Linked DNA regions of Homo sapiens: region 2 is linked to region 1. A link means that fine-mapping ties the variant in region 1 to the expression of a gene that starts in the linked region. Tissue or cell type: blood mononuclear cells. Region 1 holds a variant in brackets; the other region holds the start of a gene. All regions are shown on one strand. Distances are from middle to middle.

Evidence for each region. PIP is the estimated chance that this variant, and not a neighbour inherited with it, causes the effect.
Region 2: it holds the start of MAPK6, and the variant in region 1 is fine-mapped to the expression of MAPK6 in blood mononuclear cells (TOPMed, PIP above 0.99).

What each region holds. Positions count from the first base shown.
Region 1 is chr15:52,062,288-52,068,733 of GRCh38, forward strand. MAPK6 (mitogen-activated protein kinase 6) reads left to right here. Exons shown (of 6, transcript NM_002748.4): 6 at 1,615-5,088. The coding sequence ends at 2,713. The region is part of intron 1 of LOC112268150 (a long non-coding RNA gene); the gene reads right to left. Among named protein-coding and RNA genes, the nearest start is that of MAPK6, 46 kb to the left of the region's middle. The variant ATACTT/A (reference allele first, on the strand shown) is at 3,455.
Region 2 is chr15:52,017,139-52,022,977 of GRCh38, forward strand. MAPK6 (mitogen-activated protein kinase 6) reads left to right here and starts at 2,081. Exons shown (of 6, transcript NM_002748.4): 1 at 2,081-2,238. It overlaps MAPK6-DT (MAPK6 divergent transcript), which reads right to left and starts at 1,957. Exons shown (of 2, transcript NR_156732.1): 1 at 1,561-1,957. RefSeq lists enhancers at 1,682-1,751, 3,092-3,141 and silencers at 1,922-2,031, 2,332-2,841.

The sequences.
Region 1 (6,446 bases):
CAGTGCTGAAATTATAGGCGTGAACCACCGTACTCAGCCAGTATTTGAATCTGTTTTCCTAATGACACAATTAATTTGGGGACACTTAACATAGGTTCAGTAAAAGAGACTTTTTTAGGTCTAAACATTAGTGTATAATGTTATCCATATTTTGATGTTTCATAAAGTGAAATAATTGGATTTCTAGGAAAGTTTGGCTGGGCGCGGTGGCTCATGCCTGTAATCCCAGCACTTTGCGAGGCTGAGGCAGGCCAATTACCTGTGGTCAGGAGTTCGAGACCAGCCTGGCTAACGTGGTGAAACCCGGTCTCTACTAAAAATACAAACATAAGCCAGGCTTGATGGCGGGCTCTTGTAGTCCCAGCTACTCAGGAGGCTGAGGCAGGAGAATCACTTGAACCTGGGAGGCAGCAGTTGCAGTGAGCCGAGATTGCACCACTGCACTCCAGCCTGGGCGACAGAGCAAGACTCCGTTTCAAATAAATAAATAAATACATTTCTGGGGAAGTTTAGATATAATTCTGCTTCAGAGTAGGATGGTAGCTTATAGAGTCATCAGGTGATTTTGATGCTTCAGAGTAGGATGGTAGCTTATAGAGTCATCAGGTGATTTTGATGTATGGCCAAGTTTGGGAACCACTAATGCCAATCTTTTTAATCTTAAGATTTTAAGAAGAAATTTTTTTCCCCCTCCTCAAATGTTGATGTATTGGTATGGTATGTTTACACAAATCTGCAAACTACTTTTTTTCTCCATGTGTCCATTTCTACCCCCTAAATAATGGTTCTTTTCTTTTTTGAGACGGAGTCTCACTCTGTTGCCAGGCTGGAGTGCAATGGTGCCCATCTCTCTGCTCACTGCAACCTCCTGAGTTCAAGCAGTTCTCCTGCCTCAGCCTCCCTACTAGCTGGGACTATAGGCACCCGCCACCATGTTCAGCTAATTTTTGTATTTTTAGTAGTGGGGGTTTCACCATGTTGGCCAGGCTGGTTTCAAACTCCTGACCTCAAGTGATCCATCCACCTTGGCCTTCTTGAAGTGCTAGCATTGCAGGCCTGAGCCACTGCACCTGACCTGCATTTTCTATTTTACCTAGCTAAGTTATCTAATCTCTTTTCTTTTCCCTCAATGATTATACATGTCAGTAATAGGATAGCGCATTCAGCAGCACGTATACACAGGGAGATTTTTGCTATTCATGGTGATGAGTTTTCCAGCAAACCTCCTCCTCTTCTAGTTGCCCTTACTGTAGAGTAAACATTTAGCAAACCTCCTCCTCTTCTAGTTGCCCTTACTGTAGAGTAAACATTTGTAAGGTACCTGATTGAGATTTGAGATCTGCATTTTGTGGCTATGAAGTCTTTTGTTTGCATGGAACTGGTGGACAAAAAACAAATTGGAAATGAAGTTACATACTGCATTGGCAATTACCAAATATATTAACAGAGCTTTCCTATCAAGACTAAGTTCTGGTAGGGCAAGGCAGGCATATTTACTCTCCTATAATTATCCCCTCATAGACCTAGCACAGTGCTGTCACATAGAAGGTACTCGGTGAATTTGAAAATGAAATCATATACGTAGAATAACGCTAGTGTATTGATTTTTTTCAGGTATCATGATTGTCAGTTTTCAGAGCATGATTGGCCTGTACATAACAACTTTGATATTGATGAAGTTCAGCTTGATCCAAGAGCTCTGTCCGATGTCACTGATGAAGAAGAAGTACAAGTTGATCCCCGAAAATATTTGGATGGAGATCGGGAAAAGTATCTGGAGGATCCTGCTTTTGATACCAATTACTCTACTGAGCCTTGTTGGCAATACTCAGATCATCATGAAAACAAATATTGTGATCTGGAGTGTAGCCATACTTGTAACTACAAAACGAGGTCATCATCATATTTAGATAACTTAGTTTGGAGAGAGAGTGAAGTTAACCATTACTATGAACCCAAGCTTATTATAGATCTTTCCAATTGGAAAGAACAAAGCAAAGAAAAATCTGATAAGAAAGGCAAATCAAAATGTGAAAGGAATGGATTGGTTAAAGCCCAGATAGCGCTAGAGGAAGCATCACAGCAACTGGCTGGAAAAGAAAGGGAAAAGAATCAGGGATTTGATTTTGATTCCTTTATTGCAGGAACTATTCAGCTTAGTTCCCAGCATGAGCCTACTGATGTTGTTGATAAATTAAATGACTTGAATAGCTCAGTGTCCCAACTAGAATTGAAAAGTTTGATATCAAAGTCAGTAAGCCAAGAAAAACAGGAAAAAGGAATGGCAAATCTGGCTCAATTAGAAGCCTTGTACCAGTCTTCTTGGGACAGCCAGTTTGTGAGTGGTGGGGAGGACTGTTTTTTCATAAATCAGTTTTGTGAGGTAAGGAAGGATGAACAAGTTGAGAAGGAAAACACTTACACTAGTTACTTGGACAAGTTCTTTAGCAGGAAAGAAGATACTGAAATGCTAGAAACTGAGCCAGTAGAGGATGGGAAGCTTGGGGAGAGAGGACATGAGGAAGGATTTCTGAACAACAGTGGGGAGTTCCTCTTTAACAAGCAGCTCGAGTCCATAGGCATCCCACAGTTTCACAGTCCAGTTGGGTCACCACTTAAGTCAATACAGGCCACATTAACACCTTCTGCTATGAAATCTTCCCCTCAAATTCCTCATCAAACATACAGCAGCATTCTGAAACATCTGAACTAAAACACTCAGCAGACATTTATCTTTGTATTCTTCATGAAATGTGTTTTGTCTTTTTTTATTACTAGTGTTTAAGTCATTTTTTACTTGAATCAGATGGTGTCATTTAGTAAGGATTTTATGAGTTCTTGTTTTTTAAAATCCAGACTTTCTTTTTCTACATGTGAGATAGTTTTCATTTTAACTGGCATGTCATTTGCACACAAAAATAAAGACTAGAGCAAAATAATGCAACGCAGGAGGAGAAAAGAAATGCACTAAGACAAGAACATTCTCTCATAGAACATTGATCTGTTTTACAGGAAACAAACCTTGCCTTGAAATTTACACAGTGAGACTGTACATAATTGCATGAAAATAGCTATTTTTTTCCTAAGACATTTTTCATTCATGAATATTTTCAAGTTTTTCATACTGTACACATTTCTTAAAACACATGATACCAGCAGCAACTGAAAATGAATGCCGAATTTGGTACACATGTGTTATCTACCTCAAGGTAACAAGAGTATGTGGCAAAACATATACCACCCATAGTGCTTCACAAAATGCACTTCTATTTAGCCAGCGTTTATTGTAGTAAACTATTCTTAATAAAACTCACTCACTGTTTATAAATGTTCTGGTATGCATTCTTTATAGTGAAGTGTTAATACATCACATCTTATTTATTTTAGCAAATCAGTATATTTTCTGTATTTAATTATAAAAAATTAACTTAGTTTTTAAAATTTATTTGCAAAT[ATACTT/A]TACTTTTTCCATTTGGCACTATGGTTTGTTGCCTACCTAGCTGCATCTATAATGTCAGCTTATCCTAAGGCTGTCCACGTACTTAATTTACTTAAGTGTTCATTTTAAGTAACGTGCTCACTGTGTATAGGAATTTGTATTTTGGAGGTGCTTGATCTATCTACAAAGAAAAATTAATTAGGAATTACTTTATTATAAAATGCTCCTAGAAGTCTTAATTGTGTTTATTTTTTAAAAAAACAAATGTTAGACTTGTGTGCATGGAAGTAATTAAGGTACATCATTATTGTAGTTTGAAAGTTGTACATGATAAGACATTTTGTTTTTACTGTATGTTTTTACTGAATGATCTATTCCCCATCCCAAGGCAAGCATGAATAAAATTAGGTTAAACGTAGCATGTGGCATCGCAGTCTCTTAGAATTTGTTTCATCTATTTTATTTTATTGAATACTGTCTGTATCTTTGGTTATCCTGTTTGAAGAAAAAGGACAAATAAAACATGGCCAGCAAATACAGCTCCTGTTTCACTCTTGGGTTAATGAAAATTTTCTGCTAGAATGAAAATTACTACCAGAATCACTTTGAATTATGGCCATAAATTGCTAGTCTGAAAGGCTGAGAAGGTTCAAGTCTTTTGACTTAAACCATCACATATTAGAATGGAATAAAGCTTTATAATATTTCAAAACTGTTAGGTAAAATGTGTAGTTGAAACTTTGAACTGTGCAGTCAGAAAACTTGAGATTTGCTCTGTAATACATCTTTGCGTAAGAACTTACCCTTTTACCTATCCAGCTACAAAACCATCCTCTTCACCTCACTTTTCTTTCATCCTTGTTTTGTACAACACCAATTCTATTAATATCTGCCCACCTACCTTCTCAACAACTCCATCCTCTTCACCTCACTTTTCTTTCATCCTTGTTTTGTACAACACCAATTCTATTAATATCTGCCCACCTACCTTCTCAACAACTGACTTCATCTGGATTCACAAAGCCATATATATACACGTGTGTGTGTGTGTGTGTGTGTGTGTGTGTATATATATTCATTTATTTATTTTCTGGTTGAATACTGTCACGTTATTAATTTAAACATACTCAAATTACCTTAAGAGGACAAGCTCTGAAGTGCAGTCATGAGAATTGATTTGTGGGGAAAAAAAAAATGGGACACTTTTAGTTGGAGCTGGGTGGGGTGACAAGTGCAGAGGCTTTGAGTGTCATGAGAGCATCAGACAGGATGTAAAGGAAGCAACGGGCAGCAGACATTGGTCCCTGATCCTCCATTATAACCAATTTTTTGCAAACGTATGTTGATTTTGAGAATAATTAGCTTTGACTCTAAAATGCTGTCTTCCCTGAAGGAGACCTAGGATTTTTCTTACTGGGAAACTTGGCTCCTGGACTTAATCCACATTCGTTAAACTGTCACCTTGGCAGTTTAGTGGCCATCTACACAATGATCTGACTTGTTGGCATTAAAAAGTCCAAACATAGTCATCAAAGGAAGAAGAAAGTAAAACTGAAACCCCTTATATAAAATATGCTTGCTTTAGGGTGACCCAGGCTGAGTACTAAGTTGTAAAGTCAATTTCCAATAAAAATTTTATGTGCCAATTACTTTGTCTCCACTTGCAATCAAAGTATCTTTATAGGGTAATGAAGATGAAATACTCCAAGAGGCAAAGTCTTTCTTTCTCTGCCACCCAGGCTGAAGTGCAGTGGTGTGATCACAGCTCACTGCAACCTTGAACCTAGGCTCAAGTGATCCTCCCACCTCAACCTCTTGAGTACCTAGGAGTAGCTGGCACCTTTGTTAAAGATCATTTGACCATATAGATGAGAATTTATTTCTGGGTTCTCTACTCTGTCTCTTGTCACAGTTTTTGACTGTTTTTTTCCTTTGAGACAGGGTCTTACTCTCTGGCCCAGGCTGCAGTACAGTGACATGATCATAGCTCACTGCAACCTTGACTTCCCAGGCTCAGGCAATCCTGCCTCAGCCTCCTGAGTAGCTGGAGCCACAGGCATGAATCAACATGCCCAGCTAGTTTTTACATTTTTTATAGTACTTTTAAAATTTGTTTATAGAGACAGGGTCTCCCCCATGTCACCCAGGCTGGTCTTGAACCCCTGGGCTCAAGCAATCTTCCTCAGCCTCCCAATGTGCTGGAATTACAGGTGTGAGCCATTGTGCCTGGCGGTAAAGCATTTTTTTCTGACATGAGTATGGCCACCCCTGCTCTATTTTATCATTTGCCTGATAGCTTTAGTTTTAATTGCTACACCACAACGTATTTCTTAAATGACATCTTCCAAAATTTTGCTTCTACCAACATCTTTGCAGTGAGAATTCTTGTGAACATGTGTAAGAGTGTCTTTAGGGCAGATACATAGGAGTAGAGTTGCTACATATCTTCAAGTCTATGAAGATGCCATGTCCCTGTCCAAAAGTGATTGTACTGACTCACATTCCTGCCAGCAATGCACAAGAGTTCTTATTCATCCACATGCCTCCAAGCAAGAAACCAAGTTTCTTCCATTGAATTAATCCTACCAGCTTTGCAATGTTCAGTTTACAGTAGGAATCAGGATTTCTAATTCCAAACAACTGCATGGCTGGAAATCATGACTACACCTTAGGGATCCTTAAGTAGCCACTTCAATGTGAGATTGCCTTGTTTCTCATTTCCTATTGCTCCAGCCACTGCAGCTTGGGAACAGAGGCTTTAAATCTTAAAGGCTGAGCCAATTATGTCATTACACTGGGGTCCATACCTAAGGAGAAGTAGATCATGAATCAAATCGGGTTTTCAAATAAAATCCAAGCAAACATCACCTTTGCTTCTCAGTTAAGACACCTGCATAGTATTGGTTATGAAATTATTTGCAAGCACTGTTTTCCATTTGATACTTTGGTGTGTTTTATATAGAGCACATTTAGTTAGTGATCTAGTCAGCAAGTGGACCGTTGTCTG
Region 2 (5,839 bases), 45 kb before region 1:
GTCCGTGTGAAGAGACCACCAAACAGGCTTTGTGTGAAAAACAAGGCTGTTTATTTCACCTGGGTGCAGGCGGGCTGAGTCTGAAAAAGGAGTCAGCAAAGGGTGGTGGATTATCATTAGTTCTTACAGGTTTTGGGATAGGCAGTGGAGTTAAGAGCAATGGTTTGGGGGCAGGGGGTGGATCTCACAAAGTACATTCTCAAGGGTGGGGAGAGTTACAAGGAATCTTCTTAAGGATGGGGGAGATTATAAAGAACCTTCTTAAGGGTGGGGGAGATTACAAAGTACACTGATCAGTTAGGTTGGGGCAGAAATAAATCACAATGATGGAATGTCATCAGTTAAGGCTATTTTCATTTTTTTTGTGGATCTTCAGTTGCTTCAGGTCATCTGGATGTATATGTGCAGGTCACTGGGGATACGATGGCTTAGCTTGGGCTCAGAGGCCTGACACCCTTTTGAAATGCTACAAAGATTCTGTCAATTTAGTGGTCTCCCTTACTATTGTAAGCCAACTTTGCATTATCCACAGGAAGTCAGCAGTGACACTGGATTAAATGCTCCTTGAGGGAAGGCACAGTGCTTGGTATTTATTCTCCCACCTTCTCTGGGTGATCAGACATTGATGGAAAAGGAAGGTAAACGAGTTCTCAAAGAGTGAGAGGAAAAATGTCCTGAGGATCAGAGGAGAGCCTAGAGCAGAGGCAGTGGGGCTGAAGGTACGAGCTCTCGTTGCAGAAGCTGGAAATTCTGCGGTTGGAACAAGTCTCCCCTTTCTCTTGGTTTTTTTCACTCATTACCTCTTCTTCACACCTGGTACTCAGCTGACGTTGTTTTAAATATTAAAAAATATAAAGCATTCAAGCTCACCCCAACCACTTAACTTCATTACTCTGTGATTTTTTTTTTTGAGACAGAGTTTCGCCCTTTCGCCCAGGCTGGAGTGTCCTGGCGCGATCTCGGCTCACTGCAACCCCCCGCGGGGTTCAAGCTATTCTCCTGCCTCAGCCTCCCGAGTAGCTGGGATTACAGGTGTGAGCCACCACACCCGGCTACTTTTTGTATTTTTAGTGGAGACGGGGCTTTCACCATGTTGGCCATGCTGGTCTCGAACTCCTGGCCTCAGGTGATCTGCCCGTCTCGGCCTCCCAAAGTGCTAGGATTACAGGCGTGAACCACCACGCCTGGCCCTTTGTGATCTTTTTGAAGTGGTCTTTGCCTCTTTCTTGAAGATGCCCATAATAATGACTAGAAGGGCTATTCTATGTCTGGTTCTCAGCAAGATGGTGATGAAGTCATTGAAAAAATATGCTGACCTGCGTCTCTAATTTCATAAATACTTAAATTTCACATAAACACTGAAAAGGCTCCTTGGACTCAATAAGCCATGATAAGTAATGTAAGTTTGCTTTTAGCCAAGTGGGCCCAAGAAGGCACCCATCCACCTTTCTACGTTTCATAGTGCATCCCTTCCCAAATTCAAATTGTCCTATCCCAGTTCCTGCAACAAGCCAGGTACTCTGGCCTCCCAGTCTTTGCTCACAGAAACACCCTCCCCACCTCCTGGTTATATCCGCTCCTCCGGGATCCAGCTGAAAGGCCACCTTGGCGACCACTCCTGAAAGCCTTCCTCCATACTCTGGCAGAATGAATGACCTTAGTATTGGCCTCTAACGCGTCTGTCTTGTGCTCGGGCTGTCGCCTTCCAGCCAATCCATCTTAAGGTCCACCCTTCCTGGAGACTGAGGCCTCTTCCTCTCGGATTGCCCAGTGCCTTGCACGTAGTAGGTGCTTAGTAAACGCTGGCACTGGGTTTGGTCACTTTGTTCCCTTAATGCCAGGGCAGGTAGTAGAGCAAACGGCCCCAGCTGTCTTCCTCCCTGCCCGCCCGCAGGCAAAGCCCCCAGGAGACGCCGGACGAGCCGCGTGCCTTTCCCACCGCCTCCGCGGCGCGCGCAGCCCAGTCACGGGCGCTGGAAATTCCGGCGCGTGCGGGTGCGCTGGGCAGGGCGGGGGCGGGAGAACCCGTGGAGTGAGCCTGTGACGTGAGGGGGCGTGGCACCGCGAAGCCCCGCCCCCTCTTCCTCGCCCTCTCTCGCGGGTCGGGGTTACATGGCGGCGACTGCGGCAAAGCGAGAGCCTCGGAGACGCCGCTGCCGCCAGCACAGCCGGAGACCTGAGCCGACACTGGGGGCAGTCCGCGAGCCCCGCACTCTCTCGATGAGTCGGAGAAGTCCCGTGAGTGTGTGTGTGTACGTGTGCGGGGTGCGCCGGCGGGGCGGCTCGGGAGGGCGCCGCGGCGGGCCCGGCGGCGGCGGCGGCGGCGGCGACGGCGGAGCCGGCTCCCTCCTCCATTGTGTGTGACCCTCCGGCGGCTGCCGCTCAACAAAGGCGTTTTTGTTCGGTCTGCCGCCCGCCCCCTGCTCGCCCGCCTGCCCGCCCGCTCGGGCCTGGCCGGCGCGTCCCCGCGCGGGCGGGCGGGCGGCGGGCTGGGGTCCCCGCGTGGGGCCGGCCAGGCGGCCAGCGCGCCCCTCCCACCCGGCACGCCCCTCGCCGGTCGCCCTGCCAGGCCGCGCCCGCTCCCTGGCCCCGCACGCCTGCTGCCGTCCCGCCGCCTGCGCCTGGCTCCGCGGGTTCGAAACCCAGCCGGACCGGACCGGAGGGCGGGCGAGCGAGGGGCGGCGGCCCGGGGAACATGAGGTGGCGTGGAGTCTCGCCTTACTGGCACGCTGCCTTTCGAAATGCTCCCGCGTCTCCTCCCCCATCCCACCCGGTGACTCGGCCTCAGCTGACTCCGGCCGGGCAAAGTCTCCAGTGGCGTAGCGCGCAGCGCTCACCCGGCTCGTCTCAGAGCCCTGAAGTCCGCCCAAGTTTTGAGTCTTGCCATGAATGAGGTACTGAAAACTCGGAGACGAAATTCCTAATTTCCTCCCTCGGCCCTACAGTCTTTCCTTAGCTTCTTTCGGGACCTTAAGTGGTGGTCTGTAAAAGTGCCCAAATGAAAGCTTGTTTTGTCGGTTCACCAAAAAGGGCCTTGTCACTTTGCTGTGCATTTTAGTCCGCCTTGTGAGTTGTGTCGAAAAGTAAAGGTGTTTTGGCATCCTTTTGTTTCTTGGCGAGTGTAGGACCCAACCGGTTTAGGTGTTAGGGGGATCTCTGTGCAGCGGGAGCTTCTTGATTCCTTTCCTGTTTTATTTTTTCTTTTGCTTGTTCATTGGAAAAGGTCCAGTGAAAGGGACTGGTGAGTTGGAATTAGAAGCCTACTTGTATTAACGGCAGAATTCGTGTTCATTGCTAAAGATGCAGTCTCAGTAATGACTTTTTTTTTTTTAACGGATACAGATGATTTGTCAAGGGGAAAAATTAACACGCCATACAATGAAGAGCAAGCAGCTTCAGAGTAATTTTCTGATGGCTGATTCTTCTAGCCTGTCTCTTACAGTTCCAATTGCACATGTCCTCCCTCTTTAACGCTGGAAAACTGAGATGGAAAGAATGATCTGACCAGAAGAATGTAGGGTCCAAACAGGGCCTGGCCCTGAAATCAGGAATTTCTTCATAGAAATATCAGATTTTAATGTTTAAAAAATAATTTTGAATTGGGTGAAAGGAACTTTGTCTTTAGATAGTAGTTGTTCAAACATGTTTATGAAGTGTTTGCTATGTGCCAGGGATTGTAAAGTCATTTCACATATGTTACATCATTTATTAAGAATTGCCTTAAGCTTGTAAAATTATTCATTGATGTCCTGAATTCAGTAATTGCAGTTAATCTAGAAAATATGCCAGATTTGAGCAGAACATATTTGATCACCTAGGTATTACTGTTGAGAAGAAAACACTGGAAAATGGAGACTATTTTAGAAAAAACTTCGTATATGAGGATATTCTGGAATTCATTTATTTGCAAAAGAGGATTAGAAGTAGTCGTTGGCTACTTTCTGTTATTAAAAAATCCAGAGAAGAGTGATTTGAAGTCAGTTAATTTTGTAATAAAAAAATGCACACATTCTAAAGACTAATGTTAGCACTAAAAGTGTTGCAGTGCTTTACATAAATTCATTTAAAGCATCGTGAGAATCATAACTGACAAAATAGTAAGGTTTGCTGACTCAGGGTACTTTGCTGAAGGGGATGGGGGTCGGGTAGGAGGAAGCTTACAAGTGCTGCTGCAAGTTTTGAGTTGGATGATGACTCATGCTGCCCACGGACTGCTACGTGGCTTTTTTTTTTTTTTTTTTTAAATACACTGTATTTTTTTCTAAATGATAGGCTAAAATGTTCCTGTCCACATTGAAATTCTCTCTCATTTTTTCTGAAGAGGAACAGCAGTTTCTCTAAAAAAGTAATGGCTTCTTAAATTGCATTTTAAAAGGATATCATATACCCTACAGGTGGAATTGTGTAACATTTGCTGAGAGGAAAGGTAAAACCAATTTCTGGTCAGGTGCTGAAATTAAATGTTTGATACTAGCAGTTTTTTGGCTACTGCTGAGAGAGATTTGTTACAGGTTGTTTATAAAGGACAGATAGTACTTTTATGGTGTCGGTAGAAATTGACCTTATGTTTTTATTGGTTATGTGAAAGTTATCTTTATATTTAATATTTAATCAGATATGGCTCTGAATATGAAAGTTTCACTCAGAATTATTAAAACATAATTATATATTGTGCTTTGTGATTTATGTGAATTTTCTGTTTTAATAAAGACAATTTGAAATAGGTATTAGTCACTATTTTTCATGGTTTTTTTTTAAAGATAAGCTGAATGTACAGTTCTAAGTTGAAACTTGGTAATAAGATAAATCTTTTGACTGATTTTAAAACAGCCAACGTTTAGCAAGGTGGCTTAAAATAAGATTGAGAGGGGGAAAAAGATTGAGAATGGCAGTTTAAGAGTGGGGCTGGGTGCGTTGGCTCACACCTGTAATCCCGGCACTTTGGGAGCCTGAGGTGGAAGGATCGCTTGAGGCCAGGAGTTCAAGACCAGTCTGGGCAACATAACGAGACCCTGTCTCAATTTTTAAAATAAAAGAAAAAAAATTTCCCACCCCATCCTCTGGTTTTTCTGTGTATACTGTTTATTTTTCCAAAGGGATTTGAGGAGTTTGTGGACAGTAAAGTGTTTGTTGTTTTTGTGAGACAGGGTCTTGCTCTGTCACCCTGGCTGGAGTGTAGTGGTGCGATCACTGTTCACTGCAACCTCTACTTCCCGGGCTCAGGTGATCTTCCTGCCTCAGCCTCCGGAGGAGCTGGGACTACAGCTGTGTGCGACCATGCCTGGCTAGTTTTTCGTATTTTTTGTAGAGATGAATGTTCACAGTGTTGCCCAGGCTGTTCTTGAACTCCTGGGCTCAAGCAATCTGCCTGCCTCAGCCTTCCAGAGTGTTGGGATTACAGGTGTGAGCCCCTGCTCCCAGCCCATAAAATGTATTGTTAATGTGAATTAAATTTTTGGAACTATTTTGGAAGAGTATTGCATGATTTATACCTAGAGGTTTTTTTTTTACAAAGTTTAATTCAAACTTAAAAAAAATTTCCTACTAGAGGAAACATAAAAATACAAATATAAAAGTATTGAAAATTTTCAGAGCATCACATTACTTAGAGGTTTAACGTATTTTCGGCATTGTTTTCAAATATAGGTAATTAGCTGTAGTGCATAATTCAGAGTTTAAAAACAAACTGAGGCCGGGGGCAGTGGCTAACGCTTGTAATCCCAGCACTTTGGGAGGCTGAGGAGGCAGATCACGAGGTCAGGAAATCGAGACCATCCTGGCCAACATGGTGAAACCCCGTCTCTAATAAAATACAAAAATTAGCTGGGTGTGGTGGCAC